Homo sapiens: one gene and its partners. The protein of the gene in region 5 purifies or fractionates together with the protein of the main gene of each other region. This does not show direct contact. Each region holds a gene or a part of one and is shown on either strand. Other genes may lie near its edges. The genes, in order: PRRC2C, EIF4E, GLUD1, DCP1A, ATG4B, EIF2S3 and NCAPD2.

Region 1 (3,500 bases), on a different chromosome or scaffold from region 5:
TTTTATATTTAAAAGAATGTGGTCAATATGAAATAATTTGGCCTGGATATGTTGGACCCTGTCCTTTTCCATGTCAATAACTTGAATAAAGACTTGGAAAGTAAACATGGCATATGAAATAATATATACATCTGAAGGAGTACCAATGTATTCCATGACCAAGATTTTTAAAGGTCTTAGAATGCTAGGCAGAATTAAACAATTAGTTATACAGTCATATTAACAGTTCAGAAACTGGATTTCATAAATGCAGAATACAGACCCAGACTGTCATGTGAAAAAGGTTCTAGCTGTGACAGCTAGTAGTGTGACAATACTGCTTTATAAAATTTTAATAGAAATCTAATGCACAGATTTGGAGTCATAACAGTTCCACTGAATTTTATGTTTGTCACAGTATGTTTAGAGTATTATGCTCAACTCCAGGCTTCATGAAGACAAACATTAACAAACGACTGAATGCAAAGGAAAAACTGTTCAGTTTATCCATAAGTGAGTAAGTTACATTAAACTAAAACTTATAGCATTACTTTAACAATTTGCCAAATAACCCAAAGAGCTGTGAAATGACGTGTAATTTTGCTAAAGCACAAAATGTAACTAACATGCCATGAGGTATGCATCTAGAAAATAAGCTTGGATATCCCTCACCACTCCTAATGCTGAGACCCCAGGCCCAGAGCTTTGTTTTCTTTTAGGGGATACAATAACTCTTACAAAGAGAAATCTGTTTCTTTCTTGAGGGAGGGGGGCAGGGTGGGGAAGAGCAGTGAAGAGGAGGCCAAATCCTAGTGTAGATCACGGAAGGCGAAAGTGAAGAGGTTTGAATGCTAAATACGGAAATTTGTAAGATCTTAGGACATATGCTTTGTGAATGTTAAGGGGTGACTGTAGTAACCTACTAATCATCAGATGGATCCAAGCAAAAGCAAGGTAAGCCTGTCAGAAATATTATAAAGATAATTCTTGCTTTGAGTAAGAAGTTGAATTGGCCACTTACAAGGTCTCTTCCATTTCTAGTAGTTAAAATGAACTAGTAATTCTAAGGTCAAATATTTTAAGAGTACATTTGCCACTATAATAGTAAAGCTAAGAATACCACCATATGTTGAATTCTTTTACTACAAATAGCAGTTCGGCAAAAACATCCAAAATGGTCATTTTTTAAAAAACAAAGTGTAATATAAATAAATCTGCTGGAGTTCTAATCAGGATAGTGGAAGGGCTCAGGCTGTTCCTGGAAACTGAAACATGTGAATTAAGTTTCCGGAGTAGGATAAAGCCTTAACAATCAGAACAGAAATGTAGCTATCAAATTTTCTGTACTAAAAACTGCTGTCCTTAAAAAGTACAGCTGTTCTGTCTACCGATTACTTAATGAGGTGATTGCCAGGGCATTCTTTTTAACAACTTATGTATTTTAAAATTGTTAAAATTACACAACTGTTTCTCTTAAAACTGTTTTTGTTTAAATTCTAGCTCTAATATTTAGTAGCTAGGTGACCACAGGCAAATTACTTAATCTCAAATTTTTTACTTCCTCACCTGGGTGGGCTATAATATCTACTCCAATACTATTATAAGATTTAATTAACAAAGTGTGTATAAAGCTCTTAGAATAGTGTAAAGCCTGTAACAAAAACTTATTAAGTGGTAATCAATATTTGCAAAACTAATATATTAAAAAGAAAAACCCAAGCATAGATAATTTCTTCTCTTTTTTTTTGAGACAGAGTCTTGCTCTGTTGCCCAGGCTAGAGTGCAGTGGTAGGATCTCCGCCTCCCAGGCTCAAGCAATTCTCCAGCCTCAGCCTCCTGAGTAGCTGGGGTTACAGGCGCCTGCCACCACAACTGACTAATTTTTGTATTTTTAGTAGAGATGGGGTTTCACCATGTTGGCCAGGCTGGTGTCAAATTCCTGACCTCAAGTAATCCACCCACCTTGGCCTCCCAAAGTGCTGGGATTACAGGGTGAGCCATCGCTTCAGGCCCAAAGCATAGATAATTTCTTAGTCAACCTTTATTTATTATTTTCCTTTTCAACAGTTTTACTCTGTCACCCATGCTGGAGTGCAGCAGTGCCATCACTTTGCAACCCTGAACTTGAGCTCAAGTGATCCTCCTACCTCACCCTTCTGAGGAGCTAGGACTACAAGTACATGCCACCCCATCCAGTTAATTGAACTTTGTTTTTTGCAAGGCCAAAGTATGTTGAATGTTATGAGAGTGAAAGAGAAGTACTTGCTCCAAGATGCTCATCTAGCATTATGAATTATGGTTAATCTTTTGGAGGACCAAAGGGTTGCCTTTAAAAGTCAGAATATTAATTTTAAATTTATTAAGTGTAGAGAATTGGTTAACATCCCTCCGTATCATTGGCCCTCTTCTTCTACCACTGAAATATCCAGTCTTAAGACATGTAAACCTATTTCCTTCCTTCTCTTCTTTTATTATTTTATTTTATTTTATTTAAATTCCCCGGCCAGGCGCAGTGGCTCACGCCTTGTAATCCCAGCACTTTGGGAGGGCGAGGCAGGTGGATCATTTGAGGTCAGTTCAGGACCAGCCTGGCCAACACGGTGAAACCCCATCTCTACTAAAAATACAAAGATTAGCCAGGTGTGCTGGTACACACCTGTAATCCCAGCTACTCGGGCTGCTGAGGCAGAAGAATTGCTTGAACCTGGGAGGCAGAGGTTGCAGTGAGCCAAGATCGCACCACTGCCTCCAGCCTGGGCGACAGAGAGAGACTCTGTCTCTAAATAAATAAATAAATAAATAAATAAATAAAATTAAAAAAATTCCCCTACCCTCTTGCTTTTAATAAGAAACAGGGTCACCTTAATGTTGTCCAGGCCGGAGTGCAATGGCTATCCCACTACTGATCAGCATGGGAGTTTTAACCTGCTCTGTTGCCAACCTGGACCAGTTCACCCCTCCTCAGGCAACCTGTTAGTCCCCCACTCCCAGGACACCCTATTGATGCTGAATTTAGTGCAGACACTCAGTCCATATGTAGAACACAGTGCGCTACCCTCCACAACTCCTGGGCTCAAGAGATCCTTCCACCTCAGCCTTCCAAGTAGCTAAGACCACAGGCACATGCCACAACACCCAACTCCTTCTTTTTCTTTCTCCTACTTTCATTCTTTCTATGTTCAAGTTTGTCATAAATATAACAGTATAATCAAAATATTTTTTCTTTCTAATCAGAAAACAAATCATTCAGCATGGGTAGGCCATTCTTGGCTTTTTCCATCCCTCTTTAATAGTTATTTCTTCAAGAGAATTTCCCTGTCTCCAAAATGCCAGAAGACTCTAGTTCTACAGTTGGGAGATGTTTTATCTTTCTACATTCTGTATCCTAGTTGTGGGGGCTACAAAAATCCATACGTACTAAAACTTAAAGAACTGTACACCACAAATCAAATTTCCAAATATAAACTTAAAATTCACCTGTCTAAAGCCTCCTTTGTTTTCAATGTCCTCTGTTTTCAAAA
Region 2 (3,500 bases), on a different chromosome or scaffold from region 5:
AGTGCAGTGGCGCGATCATAGCTCACTGCAGCCTCAAACTCCTGGGCTCAAGAGATGCTTCCATCTCAGCCTCTGGTGTAGCAAGCACTACAGGAGCAGGCCACCACGCCCGGATAATTTTTAAACTTTTTGTAGAGATGGAATCTCGCGATGGTTACCCAGGCTGGTCTCAAACTCCTGGACTCAAGTGGTCCTCCCACCTTGGCCTCTCAATATGTTGGGTTACAGGCGTGAGCCACCGAGCCTCGCCTGGATTTTTTTTTGAAGCAACTGATTAGAATTGGATTGTACTTGAGATACCCCTGCTGAAGGCTGCAAAAATCATGTTTTTTCTTACTTCAGCTAGTTTGTGAGCTTCCATAATGGTTTTCTGCTGTGCATAATCATAAACACTTAAAAAGAGCCATGGGCTTTTCCTGCTTATCCCATCATGCATAGGTATCTGGATGATTTTTGTCTATGGACATTACATAAAATATCATTTTCAGTTTGATATTATTGTGTGGTTTTCTCTTTGTATGAGTTGAGTTACATGAAGATGTGGCCCACAAATATTAAATTTGTTGAGAAGCTTGAAAGGGAAAATTAAGGGAAACATTTTACCTCTTAACGGATAATTTGGCAAAAATTTGAACGTTAGGGCAAACGGTACTCTGATGTTATTCTATCGGCATTTGAATTGTGGCTGGGTCAAAATTAGGTTTAATATTAGTCTGTGAAAATGGCAAGGCCATCTTACCTCCAGTAGGTCGTGTTTCTTTGTAGCTTTATCTTCATTCTACATCGTTCATTATTAGAATTAAAAAAATTTTTTTTTGACTTGTAGTTCCTTTTGAGGTAAGAGATTAATTTTGATTTCTTTAGCTTAACTGAAAGTGTATAATTTTACTTGTTTTTACATTGTAGCTCTTGAATTTTTTGAAACCACGCTAATTTCATAAGTGAATCAACTTGGACAATCAGCTAATTTAATGCTTCCTTTTTTATACTTTGGAAACATGCTCTGTACTACACAGCTTATTAATAAGAGTAAATAAGGTTTATATACATATTGACAAATATTTGTTGTACTATATAATTCATATTAATGAACAATTGAATGCCAACCAGACTATGCAAATTAGTGGACTTTTTGCTTAATGAAAGAACCCACTATATCAGAGTTCCTCGATAATCCACGTAAATTTGGCTCTGGGGTTCATATTCCAGATTTCTTCAATTAAAAGAAAAAAATATACTTGCTGAGTGCGGTGGCTCACGCCTGTAATCTCAGCACTTTGGGAGGCCGAGGCGGGTGGGGATCACTTGAGGTCAGGTGTTCGAGACCAGCCTGGCCAAAATGGTGAAACCCTGTCTCTACTAAAAATACAAAAATTAGCCAGGCCTGGTGGCAGGCGCCTGTAATCCCAGCTACTGGGGAGGCCAAGGCAGGAGAATCGCTTGAACCTGGAGGTGGAGGTTGCAGTGAACCGAGATGGTACCACTGTACTTCAGCCTGGGCGACAGAGCAAGACTCCATCAAAAAGAATAAAAAAAAAAACAGAAACAAATTTCACACTTCATTTTATAATCTGAGTTAATGAGCATGATTATTAGACTTAGAGAAATTCAATGTAGACACACAGTTTATACACAGAAGTTGCAGAGGGATAATATGCAAAATGAATTATGTAAGCTTACTCTAGTTTGGACAGAAAACTGTAGGCAAAAAACATTTAAGTAAAATATTGTTTAATTTACATAAAGTTAAGAATATGGGCCGGGTGCGGTGGCTCATGCCTGTAATCCCAGCACTTTGGGAGGCCGAGGTGGGTAGATCACCAGGTCAGTAGTTTGAGACCAGCCTGATCAACATGGTGAAACCCCACCTCTACTAAAAATACAAAACTTAGCTGGGCGTGGTGATGCGTGCTTGTAATCCCAAGGTACTCAGGAGGCTGAGGCAGGAGAAGCTCTTGAACCTGGGAGGCGGAGGTTGTAGTGAGCTGAGATTGTGCCACTGCACTCCAACCTGGGTGACAGAGCGAGACTCCGTCTCAAAAAAAAAAAAAATAAACAAAAGAAGTTTCCTTAATCTATTAGTACCGGTGAGTTGCACCATCTTAGTCATAGAGACTTTTTTGAGAAGTGGAAATGAGCATGGGTTATAGTCTCATCTTAATATCTGAGTGATCTTGAAGACTGAAATTTCTAAGTCAGCTGAAAGTCGGAATAAGATATATTACGGTGATTTCAATTTTTAAATGCAGTATTCAAAGGTGACAGTTTGTCAACTGTAAGGGACTAAAGTTGACATTCCATGAATGTTTTATACTCATGTATATCCATGCATTTACATACTATTTTCCCTCTTTTCTTGGAAATTCACATTGCTGCTTTTTAATTATCAATCCTTAGCCATTAGCAAGAAATGCAAAGCCTGTGATTCACAATCCTAAGATGTTCTTCCCACTCCTATCCCTACCATAAAAATCACTAGTGTTCCTTCAAAAGTCCCTAATCATGTCTCCAGAAAAAGAAAGGGGCTGGGCTTGGTGGCCCACACATGTAATCCGAGGCTTTGGGAGACAAAGGCAGGAGGATCACTTGAGCCCGGAGTTTGAGACCAGCCTGGCCAACATGGCGAGACCCTGTCTCTCCAAAAAATTAAAAAATTAGCTGAATATGGTGGTGCACACCTGTGTCCTAGCCTCAGGAGGCTGAAATGGGAGGATCCCCTGAGCCTGGGAGGTCAGAGCTGCAGTGAGCTGTGATCACACCACTGCATTCCAGCCTGGGTGACAGAAAGAGACCCTATCTCACCAAAAAAAAAAAGAAAAAGAAAATGATTTTGCGTGTGTGTGTGTGTGTCTAAAATACTAATAGTCATTTCTGGGCACTTCTGGAACCTGAGAATGTGGTCAGAAATATAAGGGGTTTTTTTTTTTTTGTTTCCCCAGTTGGAACTTTTGATACATTATTCCATAGAAACAGTAGGAAAATGGGCCGGGCGTGGTGGCTCACGCCTGTAATCCCGACACTTTGGGAGGCTGAGGTGGGCGGATCACCTGAGGTCGGGAGTTCGAGACCAGCCTGACCAGCATGGAGAAACCCTGTCTCTACTTAACAAAATTACAAAATTAGCTGGGTATGGTGGCACATGCCTGTAACCCCAGCTTCTTGGGAGGCTGAGGCAGAAGAATCGTTTGAACCTGGGAGGTGGAGGTTGCGGTGAGCCTATGTCTGCCATCGCACTCCAGCCTGGGCAACAAGACTGAAACTCCTTCTCAAAAAAAAAAAAAAAGAAAAAAGAAAAAACAGGAAAATGAAGTTTAGTCACACTATATTCAGTAAATTTTTGTGGAATCATTACAAATCTAACCAGCATTGGATTTATAGGGATATGGAATTAAGGATATGGATTTATAGTTGTAAGCAACTAACTAAAAAAACCTTATAAACATACCTTGTTTGTAACAGCTATTTTTAATGTAGAAAGATCGTTATTTGTAATTGCTACA
Region 3 (3,500 bases), on a different chromosome or scaffold from region 5:
CCTGAGGCCGGGTGCGGTGCTCATGCCTGTAATCCTAGCACTTTGGGAGGCCGAGGTGAGTGGATCACAAGGTCAGGAGATCGAGACCATCCTGGCTAACACAGTGAAACCCTGTCTCTACTAAAAATACAAAAAATTAGCCGGGCGTGGTGGCGGGCGCCTGTAGTCCCAGCTTCTTGGGAGGCTGAGGCAGGAGAATGGCGTGAACCCGGGAGGCGGAGCTTGCAGTGAGCTGAGATCGTGCCACTACACTCCAGCCTGGGTGACACAGCAAGACTCTGTCTCAAAACAAAAACAAAAACAAAAAACAAGTAGTTCCTGAATAACAGATATATTCTTTTTGTTTTTTTTTAATTTTTATGTTTTGAGAAGGAGTTACACTCTTGCTGCCCAGGCTGGAGTACAATGGCATGATCTCGGCTCACTGCAACCTCCGCCTTCCAGGTTCAAGCAATTCTCCTGCCTCAGCCTCCTGAGTAGCTGGGATTACAGGTACCTGCCTGGCTAATTTTTTTTTATTTTTAGTAGAGACGGGGTTTTACCATGTTGGCCAGGCTGGTCTCGAACTCCTGACCTCAGGTGATCCACCCGCCTCAGCCTCCCAAAGTGCTGGGATTACAGGCATGAGCCACCATGCTTGGCCTAACAGATAAATTCTTATATAGAGAACAGGTATGAGGCAGAAGTTAATCTTTTTTAAAAAAGCAACTTTTCTAACAGCATGTGACTATAGAGTAGGAGATGAAAGGGTAATTTTGGTACACAGAGATATAAGGGGATGAGAAGGGTGGAGACATCAGGGTCCTGCAGAACTTAGGTGATATTTACACTCACACAAGAGAATGAACATTGACCTTTCAAAAGCTTTTCCAAAAGCAGAAGAGGAAGGAACACTCCTCAACTCATTCCATGAGGCTAGAATTGTCCTGATACAAAGACTAGACAAAGACATCATAAGAAAACTATAGACCAATGTCACTTACAATAGCATTAAAAGGAGTAAAATATTTAGTTGTAAGACTTCTATGTAAGACTTCTACAATGAGAACTACAAAACATCATTGAAAGAAATCAAGAGACCTAAATAAATGGAAAGACATCTCATATTCAGCATTGGAAGGCTTAATATGGTTAAGATGGCAATACTGGTCAGGTGCAGTGGCTCATGCCTATAATCCCAGAATTTTGGGAAGCTGAGGTGGGAAGACTGCTTGAGCTCAGGAGTTTGAGACCAGTCTGGGATACGTGATGAGACCGTGTCTCCACAAAAAATTAAAAAATTAGCTAGGCACAGTTGCACACCCCTGTGGTTCTAGCTACTTGGGAGGGTGAGGTGAGAGGATTGCTTGAGCCCAGGAGGTCAAGGTTGCAGTGACTGCTGTCTGGTACTCCAGCCTGGGTGAAAGGACAAAACCTTTTTGGGGAGGGTGGGGAAGATGGCAATACTCCACAAATTAGTGTACAGATTCAATGAAATTCCTATAAAAATCCCAGCCTCTTTTTTTCTTTTGTTTTGCAGAAATTTACAAGCTGATGCTAAACACACATGTGACAGGATCAGGGTTCAGGCTCAGGTCTGAGCCTCAATCTGACACTCTCTGTGGAATGGGCAGTCAGGAAATAACAGATAAATAACATCAAATTTGAAGGTTTGCCGAGGAGTGAGAGAAAAAACTCCCTTTGCCTACCTCCTAGGCTTCAAAGCTTTCTGGGCCAAGACGTCAATTTAACTGCATCCTGGGTCAATGAGGCTTTTGCACATTAAGCAAATAAATCAAATTACTAGAGTTTAAGCTGTGTTTTCTTTCAGTATTCCAATGAATCACTTTTTGACCTTTGGAATTATTAGGTACTTGTCAAGTCTGATAAAATTAAGCTGGAGATATTGCAGATATGGGTGACAAATATGACTGAATAAAGTCTGAAACCATTCAAGACTATAAAATGTGTTTGAGATTTAGGGGAAGAGGAAAGACCTTTTAAAAATTATGAAGGCTATTAACAGGCTGAAGATGACTTCAATTCACCATATCTCAGAATCAGTAGGCACTCCTATAAAAGTGTGAGCGAGATAGTTAACTCATATTAACTTACGTTAACAGACTCCATGTAAGGATGCACAAGTTCACAGTAGTGCTGGGTATGCGGCACATCAAAGGCCCAAATGCCTTTTATTATCAAAGACAGGCCAAATCTAGTCAAGTTTTAGAGTTACCTATACTTACTGTATTTCTATATTAGGTTATTTCATGACATTTATTTCATGACTTTTTTTTCCTAAAAATGAATCCGAATAGCTTTATTTCATTTCTCTTTCTTCTTGAGATGTGGTCTCGTTTTGTTGCTCAGGCCAGAGTGTGGCAGGCCAGAGTGCAGTGGCACAATCATAGCTCACTGCAGCCTCAACCCCCCAGGCTTAAGGGATCCTCCCATCTTAGTAGTTGGGACCACAGGCATGCACCATCACGCTTGGATAATGTTTTCATTTTTTGTAGAGATGGGGTCTTGTAATATTGCCCAGGGTGGTCTCGAACTTCTGGGCTCAAGTGATCCTCCCACCTCAGCCTCCAAAAATGCTGGGATTACAAGCACCAGCCACCATGCCCAGCCTTTATAGTTTAATTTCATGGGAACTTGTGGGGGAAATGCTAAGAAAGGAAAGTAGAGAAAAATACACTTTATTTTCTATTTAAGTAGACCTTATTTTGTTTAACTATACTGATATTGATAGGACAAGTATTCTATTATTAAGTAACAATTAACATTCTTTTTTTTTTTTTTTTTTTTTTTTTTGAGACGGAGTCTCGCTCTGTTGCCCAGGCTGGGGTGTAGTGGCGTGATCTTGGCTCACTGGAAGCTCTGCTTCCCAGGTTCACACCATTCTCCTGTCTCAGCCTCCTGAGTAGCTGGGACTACAGGCACTCGCGACCACGCCTGGCAAATTTTTTGTGTTTTTAGTAGAGATGGGATTCCTACTAAACCCCGTTAGCCAGAATGGTCTCGATCTGACCTCGTGATCCACCTGCCTCGGCCTCTCAAAGTGCTGGGATTACAGGTGTGAGCCACCACGCTCGGCAGTAAGTATTAACATTCTATTAACTATACTGATAGGGCAAGCATTCTATTAAGTAGTTATGCATATTCTATTCAAACAAATTAGAAGCCTTCTAGATTAAAAAAAATATAGGTTTAAACTGCTTGAAAATTAAAGGGTACATGACAAATACTTACATATCATAAAAAGAATATTCAGATTGTGCACAAAGAAAATATAAACACAGATAATAGTAAGATACAAAAACATCAAGCAAACAAAGATTAATATCTTCAGAAATGTTGTATGTTTGGCAAAAGCTCCTATAACAAATAGTAGGAGGCCGGGCACAGTGGCTCCTATCTGTAATACCAGCAGTTTGGGAGTCCGAGATGGGTGGATCACCTGATGTCAGGAGTTCAAGCCCAGCCTGACCAACATGGCAAAGCCCCATCTCCAGTAAAAA
Region 4 (3,500 bases), on a different chromosome or scaffold from region 5:
GGTGGAACTGTCAGTTTTCATATTTACTTTAGCAATTAGTTTGACTGATTTTGAAATACTTCAAGGGAAAAAGGGAGAAACCTTAGTGGAGTTTGTAATGCATCTCTGCCAACTCTAGGAAGGAATTCTGTATTTTTATCCTTCTGAAGGGTAAATATTGGCACTGTTAATGAGACGGTGAAATGGTAAGTCATTTATTTCTGAAATGAGGTAACTGAAGTTCTGTGTTATATATTGCAAGAATAATGTAATCGGCTGGGCGCGGTGGCTCAGGCCTGTAATCCCAGCACTTGGGGAGGCCTAGGGCAGATCACGAGGTCAGGAGATTGAGACCATCCTGGCTAACACGGTGAAACCCCATCTCTACTAAAAATACAAAACATTAGCCGGGTGTGGTGGTGGGCGCTGTAGTCCCAGCTACTCCGGAGGCTGAGGCAGGAGGATGGTGTGAACCCAGGAGGTGGAGTTTGCAGTGAGCCGAGATCACACCACTGCACTCCAGCCTGGGCGACAGTGCGAGACTCCATCTCAAAAAAAAAAAAAAAAAAGAAGAATGTCATCATGTGACACTCTTAGTGTATCCTTGGAAGATGAACACCAAAAGAAATCTTGGGTCAGATTTTGTTTCAAGAGGCCTTTCTAAAACCTTGTTCTTCTCCTCTAGTGTGGTAGAAGAGGAGACACGGCGATCCCAGCAAGCTGCTCGGGACAAACAGAGTCCCAGCCAGGCCAATGGCTGCAGCGACCACAGGCCCATCGACATCCTGGAGATGCTGAGCAGAGCCAAGGATGAGTATGAGAGGGTGAGGCTCTCTGGGTACTTGGGTGCTGACCAGGGAAGACCAAAACGGGAGGAGGAGGTCTGCAGGAGACTATTTTACTAGGGAAGCTGGCCTCCAGGGACGGCAGAAATATAAGTTCAAAAAGAGAGCGTGTTAGCACACTCCTGTAATCAGTCCCAGCTACTTGGCAGGCTGAGGAAGGAAGATCACTTGACTCCAGGAGTTGGAGGCTGCAGTGGGCTATGATTGTGCCACTCCACTCTAGTCTGGGCAACAGTGAGACCCTGTGTCTCTCTTTTTTTTTTTTTAAAACAGATGTGTCTTACAATTTTAAACCTAAAACATAAGGAAAGAACTTGCTTACCCCAGATTACTTGTTTTTGGCAGGAAAATTTACAATGCTTTTTTCTATTCCTATAAGATTACTATGGGAGAAGATGGTCTTGGAGTGCAGAAGTTAGCTCGCAGCAGCTAGTTCTGGTAAAGCTTCGTGCCTCTTCTTCACCACTGCAGTTTCTGTTAGGATCCTCAGTGGTCCTAGGAATTTGTTTAGGCTTTGAAAAGTATTCTGATAGTTTGTACCACATAATACTAAAAAATACACTCATGGTCTGTAATTGGTGGTAGATGCACAACCTTCATTAAGCTTCATTTGGAATTTTACCCAAATGAGAGGCTTTTCTGAAATTCACTGTTTTCTTTCTCTTCTGTTGTGCATTTTAGTTTATAAATTAGCTGATAAAATTTTCTCCCAAAAGTTGAATAAAATGGCAATTGTGGTACTTTCGTTAATTTATTCAATACCTGCTTATGAACCATCTACTATGTGCAAGCAGTGGGCATTTCATGGTTATGACTCTCCTGGAATTTTACTTGGCACCTCAAAGCCCCCACACTTCACTGGAGTGAGACAAGCTCTCTACTGCTGAACTTTGTTTTAGCAGAATTATACTGTCACCTTACTCTTCATTAAATATTGAATTAAGTGCTTTCCTTTCATGCCTATTTCACCTCACCAGAACTTCAAGGAACAAAATGTGAAAAAGCACTGTCCAAAAGACCCTGTTTCCCATACAGTTCTGCTATAATACCAGCTACTAAGTTATTAATCAGTGATCCTGAAAAAAGCTTCAAATTGGCAAAACGAGTTAAGGTACTGTTGTTAGCATGACTCTTCCTCCTCCCATCCTCTTGGGACTTTACAGAGCTCAAAACTGAGAGGTCCTGCAATAAGTAAAACAATAACACCAATTCCCAGATTGACTTGACTGCAGGACCATTTTTTGCATACTGCCCTTTAACAACTCAAGAATTTGGAGTTCAGGAAAAAGTTTGAAAAAAGTGTTCTGAAAGATAGTTTCTTCTGACTAAAAATAGGCATGTTCACCATAAACTACATAGACCTTCTACATTCTGATAACAAAGGAAGTCCCACCTCCAGGGTGGAGAAATGTACATGAGAGCCCATGAGAAGTTTCAAGTTTGTACCAAATTCTTCAATGTCTCACAGAGAATTAGGAGGAATGAATGGATCTATGGAAGTTAAATTTGGAGGAGCAGTCACCTCTCTAATAAATTAATCGATTCTTAGGAAACCAAATGAGAACTAACTTCAAGAATGGCTTTCTGATTTAGAAGTTACCTTACATTCCCCTCTTCTACCCTTGATGACAAGCGGATTTTCTACGTACATACTTTGTTCTGTTTGTAGAGCCCTTTCAGTGTTCTCATAGGTACCTAGTAAGTCCAGGGCTCTGTCACTCATCCTGAGTAATAACTGTATCAAGGTACCACACGGGACAGAAACTGTAGGTGCTGCGCACTAAAGCAGATACTCCAGTAAGTGGCCTGGCTTACTCAGGCTGAGAGGTTAAGTAGCCACAACGAGAAAGTAGGAAATAAGACATTAGCTTTGAACACAAAACTTTAAAGGAACTCTAGGGTCAGGTGGGCAATCTAAACATCTGACATTATTTTGAATTATATCAATATTACAAAAGGAATATAGATAGCATGATAGTTTCTGTTTTAAATAAACTTCTTTCACACTATGGAATAAAATATCGTCTATGGGTAGATTAAAATGAAACCCTTTGGGATTTGGTTAAATCTTTGATATTTACTTTATCATGTGTTCTTTCTGATTTTGAAAACTGTCTGCAATAGGTGGAGCTTCTTTGAATTAGAGTTTTGTTCTCTTATCTGCATTTGTCTATCATCTCATCAGATGGAGCTGGTATAAGCAGTGACCCATGAATTCATGGGTCTTGGTGTTTGGATGGGCTCCCTTCAGCTGCCACATTTTTTCAGACGGCCCCTTTGTTTATCTTTAGGTGAAGACTCAGAAGATTGGCAATCAAGGGCAGGGGTGCAAGCTAGGCCTCAGTGTTGGGATTTAATCCTGATTCTGAGTCTCCGCTATCTGCTGAGTATGATATAATGAACGAAATTTCAGACTTTTGAATGAGCACTTGTAATAATGAGACTCTTTTCTTTTTTCAGACAGGGTCTCTCTGTTGCCCAGGCTGGAGTGCAGGGGCACAATCTTGGCCCACTGCAGCCTCTACCTCCCAGGCTCAAGACATTCTCCCATCTTAGCCTCCCAATTAGCCACGACTATAGGCCATGCATCACCATGCTTGGATAATTTTGTTTATTTTTTGTAGAGATAGAGTCTCACTATGTTGCCCTGGCTGATCTTGACAAGCTCCTGGGCTC
Region 5 (3,500 bases):
TGAAGCCTGTGGGGTAAGGGGAGACCTTACTGCCTACAGTGTCCCCATCCACCAACCCATCCCCCCCGCAACTCATCCTTCTGTCCACCCCCAGTCAAAGGCCAGCCAGGACATCCTTAGCATGCTCTTCTTGTCCTTAACGTTGATGGGCTTAGACCTTTCTAACGACAGTAGACAGAATGTCACTGAATGTAGGGAGGAAATACAGATTGGAAAACGTGTCAGTCTGGCAGTGAGGACAAATGACTCCAATGAAAGAAAAGTAAATACCAGAGCAAGCACAGTCAGAAACAGAGTGGGGAGGAGAATCACAATAGCTGGAACTCAACTCTCTGAGAGGCAGTGCAGCCAAATAGAGGCAGCTGAGAGCAGAGTATGTGGATTAGAACTTTTCGGGAGAGTTGGCCACTGAAGGAGTAGGAGAAAATTCCCCTGAGTTGGTGAGAGTTGAGTCTTTAGAGCTAAAGACCCCCAAATTTTTTTATCAGAAGTACTTAAACATACATGTTCCTGATAATATTTCCAAATTGCAGAAGTAAAGGGAAACTTCTCTAAACATCCAAATAATAGTATCACTACTAAGCTGCTTTGAAGAAAGGCAGTCTCAACTGGCCTGGGCATCTCATCTTTGTGCCATACCAAATGCTACTGGAAAATGTTTAGAATTCTGAGAAAAGACCTGGCTTCATGAGGTGAGAGTAGGTATGTGTACTGTGTAGTTGTCATTGATAGAGAAATATAAATTTTAAATGTGTTCAAAATATAAAGAGAACACGAGAAAATTTCAGGTGGTGGCAGGAATAGGCAAAAGCCCGTTGCACCCTGTTGACAGCAGGGTGTTTGTGACGTGGTAGGTCACACACTCAGTGCTGGGCTCTGGAGGCACAGAAGCAACCGGCCCAGCTACGCATCAGCCCTTGAGCCGATTCATGTGTTCGATCATATTCCTGAGACAGTAGGGTCTGTGCAGGTAACAAAGCACCAGTCAGCAGGAAACTCACCACCGGGAAGCCTTTCTATCAAAACATAACTTCAAAATCAGTAAAGTGGGCCGGGCATGGTGGCTCACGCCTATAATCCCAACTTCAAAATCAATAAAGCGGGCCGGGCGCGGTGGCTCACGCCTATAATCCCAACTTCAAAACCAATAAAGTGGGCCGGGCGCGGTGGCTCACGCCTATAATCCCAACTTCAAAATCAATAAAGCGGGCCGGGCATGGTGGCTCACGCCTATAATCCCAACTTCAAAACCAATAAAGCGGGCCGGGCGCGGTGGCTCACGCCTATAATCCCAGCACTTCGGGAGGCCAAGGTGGGTAGATCACATGAGGTCAGGAGTTAAAGACCAGCCTGGTCAACATCGTAAAACCCCATGTCTACTAAAAAAAAAGTTAGCTGGGCATGGTGGCACGCCCTCGTAATCCCAGCTGCTCGGGAAGCTGAGGCACGAGAATTGCTTGAACCTGGGAGGCAGAGGCTACAGTGAGCTGAGATCATGCCACTGCACTCCAGCCTGTGTGACACAGTAAGACTGTGTCTCAAAAAACCAAAACAACAAAAAATAATAAAAATATATAGAAAACAGAATAATTAACAGATTAGCTATGGAAAGATCAAAGCTACAGGGGACCCAGATAACACAACAGGCAGAGTTTAGTAGATACGTGTCAAACCCTAGATTGTGACAGCAGAGTGTGCCTGGGAATTTCTATGAAACTAATGCGGAATAAAATGAAAAAAGGACAAAACCCTGCTGCCTGGAAATGTGAAACCTCAAAAAAGTCAAGTGTAGAGACCGTAACTATGTATCTGAACCTGATGTGTACAGAACTCAGAAGAAAACCTGTGTATCTTCAGTACTAGTATATGGGTTCTTTACAAAGTGAAAATTAATGAAATAAGCATACAACTCAAGAATTCGGAAAAAGCAAAATTAACTGAAGAAACCAAAGAATAATATTAAAGACAAATACAGAAATTAATGATTTAAAGGAAGAAATGTATTAGGCCAGGTGTAGTGGCTCATGTTTGTAATCCCAGCACTTTGTGAGGCTGAGGCAGGAGGATTGCTTAAAGCCAGGAATTCAAGACCAGCCTGGGCAACATAGCCAGACGTCTATTTTTTTTTTTTTTTTGGAACAGTTCTGCTCTGTCGCCAGGCTGGAGTGCAGTGGTGGCACGATCTTGGCTCACTGCAATTTCCGCTGCCCAGGTTCAAGTGATTCCCCTGCCTCAGCCTCCTGAGTAGCTGAGACTACAGGTGCATGCCACCACGCCTGGCTAATTTTTTGTATTTTAGTGGAGATGGGGTTTCACCATATTTCACCATGTTGGCCAGGATGGTCTTGATCTCCTGACCTCATGATCTGCCCACCTTGGCCTCCCAGAGTGCTGGGATTACAGGCGTGAGCCACCGTGCCTGGACCTCATTCTATAAAATATTTTAAAAATAAATTTTAAAATTAAATTTATTAGAACTAACACATACTAGAACTGGCTCTTTGAAGCAATAACATATATGTTTTAAAAAAATCAAAGTTAAAATCCCTCCCTTGGCTAAGCACTGTGGCTCCCGCCTGTAATCCTAGCACTTTGGGAGGTGGAGGCAGGCAGATTGCTTGAGTCCAGGAGTTTGAGACCAGCCGCCTAGGTAACATGGTAAAACCTCATCTCTACAAAAAAACAAAACAAAAAAACTAGCCGGACATGGGGGCATGTACCTGTAGTCCCACCTACTCGGGAGTCTGAGGTGGGAGGATCCCATGAGCCTGGGAGGTTGAGGCTGCAGTGAGACATGATTGCACCACTTCACTCCAGCCTGGGTGACACAGTAAGACCCTGTCTCAAAAACCAAACAGAAACCCAAACAACTCCCTTAAGGCTGGGCGTGGTAGCTCCTACCCATAATCGCACCTCTCAGGGAGGCTGAGTTGGAGGATTGCTTGAGACCAACCTGGACAACTCCCTCTCTATAAGAAATAGAAAAATGAGGCCAGGCACATGGCTCATGTCTGTAATCTCAGCACTTCGGGAGGCTGAGGTGAGCAGATCACTTGAGGTCAGGAGTTCGAGACCAGCCCGGCCAATGTGGCAAAACCCCGTCTCTACTAAAAATACAAAAATTAGCTGGGCGTGGTGACACACACCTGTAATCCCAGCTACTGGGGAGGCTGAGGCAGGAGAATTGCTTGAGCCCAGAAGGCGGAGGTTGCAGTGAACCGAGATTATGCCACTGCACTCCAGCCTGGACAACAGAGAATCGGCTTCAAAAAAGAAAAGTCAGGGGGCACAGTGGCCCACACCTGTTGTTCCAGCTACTCGGGAGGCTGAGGCGGGAGGATTGCTTAAGTGCAGGTGTTTGAGGCTGCAGTGAGCTGTGGTTGCACCACTGCACTGCAGCCTGGGTGACAGAGTGAGACCCCGTCTCTAAAAGAAATTTAAAAAGTTCTGTCTCAGAATCCTTGTTTTCCAGCTGTCTGTTTTGAGAAATTTGAGTCCTA
Region 6 (3,500 bases), on a different chromosome or scaffold from region 5:
ACCTCCACCTCCTGGGTTCAAGCAATTCTCTTGCCTCGGTTTCCCAAGTATATGGGACTACAGGCACGCACCAGCACGCCCAGCTAATTTTTGTATATTTTAGTAGAGATGGGGTTTCACTATATGTTAGCCAGGCTGGACTTGACCTCCTGACCTCAAGTGATCCGCCCGCCTTGGCCTCCCAAAGTGCTGAGATTACAGGCATGAGCCACTGCGTCCGGCCAAAATTGAGAACTATATGGCAGTTAGTTTAAGAAAGAAACTTAATAAACAGGGAAAAGTATTAGCCATTTATGACAAAGACATGATATTCCTAAAATCCATATTTTTGTTTTGTTGTTTATTTTGAGACAGAGTCTTGCTCTGTTGCCCAGGCTGGAGTGCAGTGGTGCGATCTCGACTCACAGCAGCCTCGATCTCCCAGCTCAAGCCATCCTCCCACCTTAACCTCCTGAGTTGCTGGGACTACAGGTGTGGGTCACCACGCCTGGCTAATTTTGTATTTTTTGTAGAGACGGAGTTTTGCCGCATTACCCAGGCTGATCTCCAACTCCTGGGCTTGAGCAATCTGCCCACCCCAGCCTCCGAAAATGCTGGGATTAACAGGTGTGATCCACTGCGCCCAGCTTCATGATTTTTAAAAAATGTCCCAGATTAGGTTGGCAGAGATGGGAAATTGCTGACACCTAGTGTTGGCAAAGATTGAGGAAAATAAGCTATCATGCTTTTTTTTCCCCCCACTCAGGTGATCTGCCTTCCTCGGCCTCCCAATGTGCTGGGATTACAGGCGTGTGCCACTGCGCCTGGCCCATATTAACTCTTATATAGCCATAGTCCTTCATGCTCCCCTCTTTGGGAAATTTTGTACCTCATTTGTACTAGGTAACTGCTTCAGAATTTTAAGAGGTACTCTGGTACGGTTACTACCCTATTTTTTAAAGGTAGATCTTGTGTAAATTCAGTGGGTGCCAAATAAACTATACTATATATAGTTCAAATTCCTTTACAATGAAATTTCTATAGAATTTTTTTTATGATTGACATATTTCCCAATAGTATTTGGTAAATTCTTACTTACATTTGGAAAGCATTTTCTTGATTTTGGGGTTTATTTTTCCCTAATTTATTTTTCTAGGTTCAAAAGCTGTCTAAGAATGAAGTGCTCATGGTGAACATAGGATCCCTGTCAACAGGAGGGAGAGTTAGTGCTGTCAAGGCCGATTTGGGTAAAATTGTTTTGACCAATCCAGTGTGCACAGAGGTAGGAGAAAAAATTGCCCTTAGCCGAAGAGTTGAAAAACACTGGCGGTAAGTTTGTTAGTCTTTGCCACTGTCTAATTAAAAAAAGACACAGTCTTGTACAGAAAAAAAAGCACACAATCTTCCTTGAGGACAACAGTTACTGTGGCTTTCAGTCTCAACTATTTATTTGGATGACTTTGAAAACTATACTTCGGCCGGGTGCGGTGGCTCACGCCTGTAATCCCAGCACTTTGGGAGGCCTAGGCGGGTGGATCATGAGGTCAGGAGATCAAGACCATCCTGGCTAACATGGTGAAACCCCGTCTCTACTAAAAAATACAAAAAATTAGCCGGGCGTGGTGGCGGGCGCCTGTAGTCCCAGCTACTCGGGAGGCTGAGGCAGGAGAATGGCGTGAACCTGGGAGTCGGAGCTTGCAGTGAGCCGAGATGGCGCCACTGCACTCCAGCCTGGGCGACAGAGCGAGACTCCGTCTCAGAAAAAACTACAACCTTGACTATAGTCCCATATTTTAGTCCAAATACTGTGATTGGCTTCTCTTCCTGTTAGACACAACCTATGCAAAACCAAATGAATTTGGGTTCGGTATTTCTATCGTCATTGGCTTTGGAAATCATTTCACACTTAATAGAAAAATTGTAAGAGTTTTACAGAAAACTCCTCTATAGCTTTTTCCTAGATTGACAAACACACATACAGATTTATTTACATATATAAGTTTTTTTCTGAACCATTTGAGTGTAGGCTATATATGTTATGCTTCTTGATCTCTTAATACTTCAGTGTATATTTCCCATCAAAAAAGGATATTCTTATGTAACCACTTAGAAATTTAACATTGGCAAAATACTGAAATCTACAGTGCATGTTTCAGTTTTATTACTTGTCCCAATAATGTACTTTATGTTCCTCCTGTTTAGAATCTTGAATTGCATTTAATTTCATGTCTCTTTGATCTTTAATCTGGAGCTTTTTCAGCCTTTGTCTTAATTGACATTAACAGTTCTGAAGAATACAAACTAGTTACTTTATAGAATATTCCTCAATTTGGGTTTTTCTTATCATTCGGAAGCCTAACATTAGATTCAGTTATATATTCTTAACTTAAATACACCGTGAAGTCTCCTTTTCAGGAATCACAGCTAGAGGCACATGATATCTGACTGCTCCTCTTTGTTAAGGTTAGTTTTGACTATGTAGTCAAGATGTTGTCCAGCTTCTCTGCTGTGTAGTTACTCTCTACCCTTGCAACTAATAAGCAATCTGTAGGGAGATCTTTCTAGCCAGTACAAATAGCCTGCTGATCATTGAATCCCACACCCCTGGATGTAGCATCCACTGATGATTCTTGCCTGAATCGAACTTGACTATAATGATTACAAAATCATAGCACCTCTACGGGTTGCAGTATCCTCCCTCAACTCTACCACCCCACATTTATCATTTGGCATTCTTTCTTTGCCATTATTTATTTCCCTATCTAGTTATAATATGGACTCATGGAGTCCTATTTTATTCAACATGTTATGATCCATCACTGTCTTCCTTTATTTTGATGTGCATTGTTCGACGTTTGGCCAGTGGAGGTCCTTCAGGCTGGCTCTTGTGTCCTTTTGACATGTACTCATCATTTTTTTTTCTTCTTCTTTTTTTTTTTTTTTTTTTTTGAGATGGAGTCTTGCTTTGTCGCCGGGGTAGAATGCAGTGGCATGATCTCAGCTCACTGCAACCTCTGCCTCCCAGGTTCAAGCAATTCTCCTGCCTCAGCCTCCCGAGTAGCTGGGACTACAGGCACACGCCACCACACCCGGCTAATTTTTGTATTTTCAGTAGAGACGGGGTTTCACCACGTTGGCCAGCCTGGTCTTTAACCCCCGACCTCAGGTGATCCGCCCTCCTTGGCCTCCCAAAGTGCTGGGATTACAGGCATGAGCCACCACGCCTGACCTCTTTCTTCTTTTTTTTGGAACATTTCCTTATTTTCTGGCACAAAATCTTCCAGACTCATCTTGTACCTTCTCTGTTCCAGTTTTAGAACTGGCCATTTCTCTTATAAATGAAAAGCTGAGTGTTCAGGTGTGCTCATGGCTCTTAGGGTGCTGTTGCTTCTAGGTCTTTTGAGAGCATAGAGCCAGGAAGCATACACACATTTTTGGCTCCTGACTTTTTGCTCTTTCCCAGGTTATTGAGTTTGCCCCTTGCTTTCCATTCCTCGTCACCTCATCACAGTCCATACCAC
Region 7 (3,500 bases), on a different chromosome or scaffold from region 5:
TTCTCCAATCCTCAAGTCCAGCCCCTCGTTACTGCCCACTGCAGCAGCCTCCACGGGCCTTCCTTCCCATGGGTTGGTCTCCTCAGCCTCTGCTTCCCCACGTCCCTTCTGTTGCACCCCAGTTTGCAGGTGCTCTCCCCTGCCTCTTGTAGGGCTTTTGCCGGTAACTGACCTATGACATCATGGCCAATCACCACCACCAGGCTCTTTTCTTTTCCCCAGTGAGGAGAAAAATGTGGCTGGCAGGAGCACGCTTCCCAGCGCCACCTCCACTCTCTGTGCCCGCAATGCAAATGCTACAAAGCAGAATGTCTCACTAAAATGCTGGGTGCCTGGCTAACACAGTTAAAGTCCTAGACTCCTGAAGTCATTCAGGGACTTCCACAGTTTAGTTCCAACCTACATTCACAACTTTATTATCTTTTCCAGATTTTTTTTTTTTTTTTTTTTTTTGAGACAGAGTCTCCCTCTGTCGCCCAGGCTGGAGTGCAGTGGCGCAATCTCGGCTCACTGCTACCTCCACCTCCTGGGTTCAAGCAACTGTCCTGCCTCAGCCTCCCAAGTAGCTGGGACTACAGGTGCCCACCACCACACCTGGCTAATTTTTTTGTATTTTTAGTAAAGGTGGGGTTTCGCCATGTTGACCAGGCTGGTCTCGAACTCCTGACCTCAGACCTCAGGTAATCTGCTGCCTTGGCCTCCCAAAGTGCTGGGATTACAGACGTGAGCCATCGCGCCTGGTCTTTTCCAGATAATTTGAACCAGAACACAGTCTTCTTTGTTCTACAATGTGAACTGTGCTCTTTCTTGGGTTCTGTTTGAAATGCCCTCCCTCCTTGCTCTGATTCTCTAAATCCTACTCATCTTTCAAGACCCAGCTTAAGTCCTACCACCTTCAGGAAGCTTCCTTGACCATTCTACCCCAAACCGCTCTCTTTCCTACTCTGTATCCCTCAGTAGAACACAGAAGTTAAGAGTATGTTTTCTAGAGCTCTTATTGCCTGAGTTTGAATCTCAAACTTTGCCACTAACTAGCTGTAACCAGCCAAGTTCAGTAACTTCTCTGTGCCTCAGATTTCTCATTGTAAAATGCAGATAATGCTACCTCACAGGGCTGTCGTGAGGATTAAACAAGTTACTGTGAGTAACGTGTGAGTGCCTGTCATATATTCAATACCATATAAGTGAGGTTGTTATTATTGCTATGACAACCATTACCCGTACAACTCATTCTGGCACTTTATTATCTACCTGCTGCATTGTTCTAAAAATGTTCTGTGGTTTTTCACTACCAACTAGACTGTTGGTTCCTTTAAAGTTGGGAACATGAAAGCAAATAGTCTTATACTTCTTTCTGGAGCTAAGTAAATTGCTAAATACATAGTAATAACTCAATAATACTTGTTGCCGGGCGCTTTGGCTCACGCCTGTAATCCCAGCACTCTGGGAGGTTGAGGCGGGTGGATCACGAGGTCAAGGGTTCGAGACCAGCTCGGCCAACATGGTGAAACCCCGTCTCTACTAAAGATACAAAAAACTAGTCGGGCATGGTGGCACATGCATGTAATTCCAGTTACTCGGGAGGCTGAGGCAGGAGAATTGCTTGAACCTGGGAGGCGGAGGTTGCAGTGAGCCAAGATTGTGCCATTGCACTCCAGCCTGGGCAATGGGGCATGACTCCGTCTCAAAAAAAAAAAAAAAAACAACCAAAATACTTGTTGAATGAATAAAGAAAGAGAAAGCAGGAAGCCTTACAATTTCCTCAAGACACTGAATGGTCCCAACCGAGGCATCCACTAGCAGCAGAGAGAGATTCTGAATCAAAGCCTGGGCCTTGGCTCTGTGGGAACAGCAGAGATCAGCGGTCACTATAAGATTGGGAAGCTGAACTTGGCAAACAGTGATTAGGGCTATCCCACCACAGTGCTACAAAACTGCTCTCCCTGGAAACCGAGCCCCACCCTAAGCCCCACTATGATGGACTGCCTATGGATCTGGAACTCCCCTGGAGAAATGCACCTCTTCCTTTAGGAGACAAGGGAAGTCCTGTGAGAAGCTGACCTTGGAAAAGTCAGCAAAGGCAAAAGCACCCCATATACCTGGCAGAGTCCCCTTTGGGGTTGAGGTAGAGTTGGCGGTAGGCATTAAGCACGGCTTCCCGGACACCAGGCTCCTTAGACCAGATGAGAGGCAGCATACGGCGCACCCCAAACAGGGCCTGGGGTACCCCAAATTGGAAGACCATCACAAAGAATTCAATCACCTCCTGCACCACTGAGAGAACATGTACAAATGTCACCTATCTACTTCACAAAACTCCCCCAATACCTAACGACAGAACCTTTCTGAATGTAGCAAGATGCAAATGGAGGCCTTCCGCATTTTCCCTGAGAATGTCGACTCCTCCTATGATGCCTTATCATGAAATACTATATGCATTAAAATGTATAAGCTGTAAGTGGCTAGAGGAAGCAAACAGAAAAAAAGAACCCCTGCCTTTTTTTTTTCTTTTCTTAAGACACAGGTTCTTATTCTGTTGCTCCGGCTAGAGTGCAGTGGCATGACCACAGCTCACTGTAGCCTCAAACTCCCGGGCTCAAGCAATCCTCCTGCCCAGCCTTCCGAGTAGCTGGAACTACAGGTGCGTGCCATCACGCCCAGTTAGTTTTTGTTTCTTTGTAGAGATGGGGTCTTGCTATGTTGCCCAGGCTGCTCTCGAACTCCTGGCCTCAACCTGTCTTCCTGCTTTGGCCTCCCAGTTTTGTAGGGATTACAGGCATGAGCCATCGCGCCCAGCCGAGAACCCCTGCCTTTTAAAGGAGCAGATAGATATATCAATAAAATATGGAAAAGAACTCCAAGATCCATGGCCGGGTGCAGTGGCTCACACCTGTAATACCAGCACTTTGGGAGGCTGACGCAGAAGAATTGCCTGAGCCCAGGAGTTGGAGACCAGCCTGAGCAACAAAGGAAGGCCCCATCTCTATTGTTAATAAAAATTTAAAAAATTAAAAAATCCAAAAGAACCCCAAGGCTGTCCTTATAGAAAGGGACTCTGGCATACCTGTAGTTGTGTTTTCATACATCATCTTGCTGATGATGCCAATGGCCTCTGTAATCTTCCGGGAGAAGCTGTAGGCATCCTGCAGATACTGTACCAGCATCTCCTGCTTCACTAGTTCATCATTTCCCCTGGATTCCTCAGGATCCGACATATTGGGTTTATTTTTACAGACAGTCTGTCCTGTGACCATGTTTCCTGTAGACTCCCGGGGATTCTTTTCTTGTGTGGAAGCTGCTGGGCCTAAGGAGTTAGAGAAGTACAGGATGGTTTCGTTCAAGGGGATACAGGGGAATCCAACAGCTGTCAACATTCCTGGATATTTACTTATTTATTTTCCTTCTTCTTTTCTTTTGAGATGGGGTCTCACTCTGTTGCCTAGGCTGTGCAGTGGCAATGATCACCGCTCACTGCAGCCTCAACTTCCCCGGGCTAAGGT

Evidence for each region.
Region 1: the proteins of ATG4B (region 5) and PRRC2C purify together in Homo sapiens (affinity purification with mass spectrometry; one large-scale study listed by BioGRID and IntAct). This does not show direct contact.
Region 2: the proteins of ATG4B (region 5) and EIF4E purify together in Homo sapiens (affinity purification with mass spectrometry; one large-scale study listed by BioGRID and IntAct). This does not show direct contact.
Region 3: the proteins of ATG4B (region 5) and GLUD1 purify together in Homo sapiens (affinity purification with mass spectrometry; one large-scale study listed by BioGRID and IntAct). This does not show direct contact.
Region 4: the proteins of ATG4B (region 5) and DCP1A purify together in Homo sapiens (affinity purification with mass spectrometry; one large-scale study listed by BioGRID and IntAct). This does not show direct contact.
Region 6: the proteins of ATG4B (region 5) and EIF2S3 purify together in Homo sapiens (affinity purification with mass spectrometry; one large-scale study listed by BioGRID and IntAct). This does not show direct contact.
Region 7: the proteins of ATG4B (region 5) and NCAPD2 purify together in Homo sapiens (affinity purification with mass spectrometry; one large-scale study listed by BioGRID and IntAct). This does not show direct contact.

Annotation. Positions count from the first base shown.
Region 1 is NC_000001.11:171,492,030-171,495,529, reverse strand, and holds part of PRRC2C (protein PRRC2C), read right to left. Parts: intron 1-3,500. UniProt on the Homo sapiens protein: Required for efficient formation of stress granules.
Region 2 is NC_000004.12:98,922,634-98,926,133, reverse strand, and holds part of EIF4E (eukaryotic translation initiation factor 4E), read left to right. Parts: intron 1-3,500. UniProt on the Homo sapiens protein: Acts in the cytoplasm to initiate and regulate protein synthesis and is required in the nucleus for export of a subset of mRNAs from the nucleus to the cytoplasm which promotes processes such as RNA capping, processing and splicing.
Region 3 is NC_000010.11:87,070,844-87,074,343, forward strand, and holds part of GLUD1 (glutamate dehydrogenase 1, mitochondrial isoform a precursor), read right to left. Parts: intron 1-3,500. UniProt on the Homo sapiens protein: Mitochondrial glutamate dehydrogenase that catalyzes the conversion of L-glutamate into alpha-ketoglutarate. Plays a key role in glutamine anaplerosis by producing alpha-ketoglutarate, an important intermediate in the tricarboxylic acid cycle.
Region 4 is NC_000003.12:53,309,544-53,313,043, reverse strand, and holds part of DCP1A (mRNA-decapping enzyme 1A), read left to right. Parts: intron 1-664; coding exon 665-803; intron 804-3,500. UniProt on the Homo sapiens protein: Necessary for the degradation of mRNAs, both in normal mRNA turnover and in nonsense-mediated mRNA decay. Removes the 7-methyl guanine cap structure from mRNA molecules, yielding a 5'-phosphorylated mRNA fragment and 7m-GDP.
Region 5 is NC_000002.12:241,661,693-241,665,192, forward strand, and holds part of ATG4B (cysteine protease ATG4B), read left to right. Parts: intron 1-3,500. UniProt on the Homo sapiens protein: Cysteine protease that plays a key role in autophagy by mediating both proteolytic activation and delipidation of ATG8 family proteins. Required for canonical autophagy (macroautophagy), non-canonical autophagy as well as for mitophagy.
Region 6 is NC_000023.11:24,071,956-24,075,455, forward strand, and holds part of EIF2S3 (eukaryotic translation initiation factor 2 subunit 3), read left to right. Parts: intron 1-1,135; coding exon 1,136-1,308; intron 1,309-3,500. UniProt on the Homo sapiens protein: Member of the eIF2 complex that functions in the early steps of protein synthesis by forming a ternary complex with GTP and initiator tRNA.
Region 7 is NC_000012.12:6,521,602-6,525,101, reverse strand, and holds part of NCAPD2 (condensin complex subunit 1), read right to left. Parts: intron 3,305-3,500; coding exon 3,065-3,304; intron 2,275-3,064; coding exon 2,100-2,274; intron 1,841-2,099; coding exon 1,756-1,840; intron 1-1,755. UniProt on the Homo sapiens protein: Regulatory subunit of the condensin complex, a complex required for conversion of interphase chromatin into mitotic-like condense chromosomes.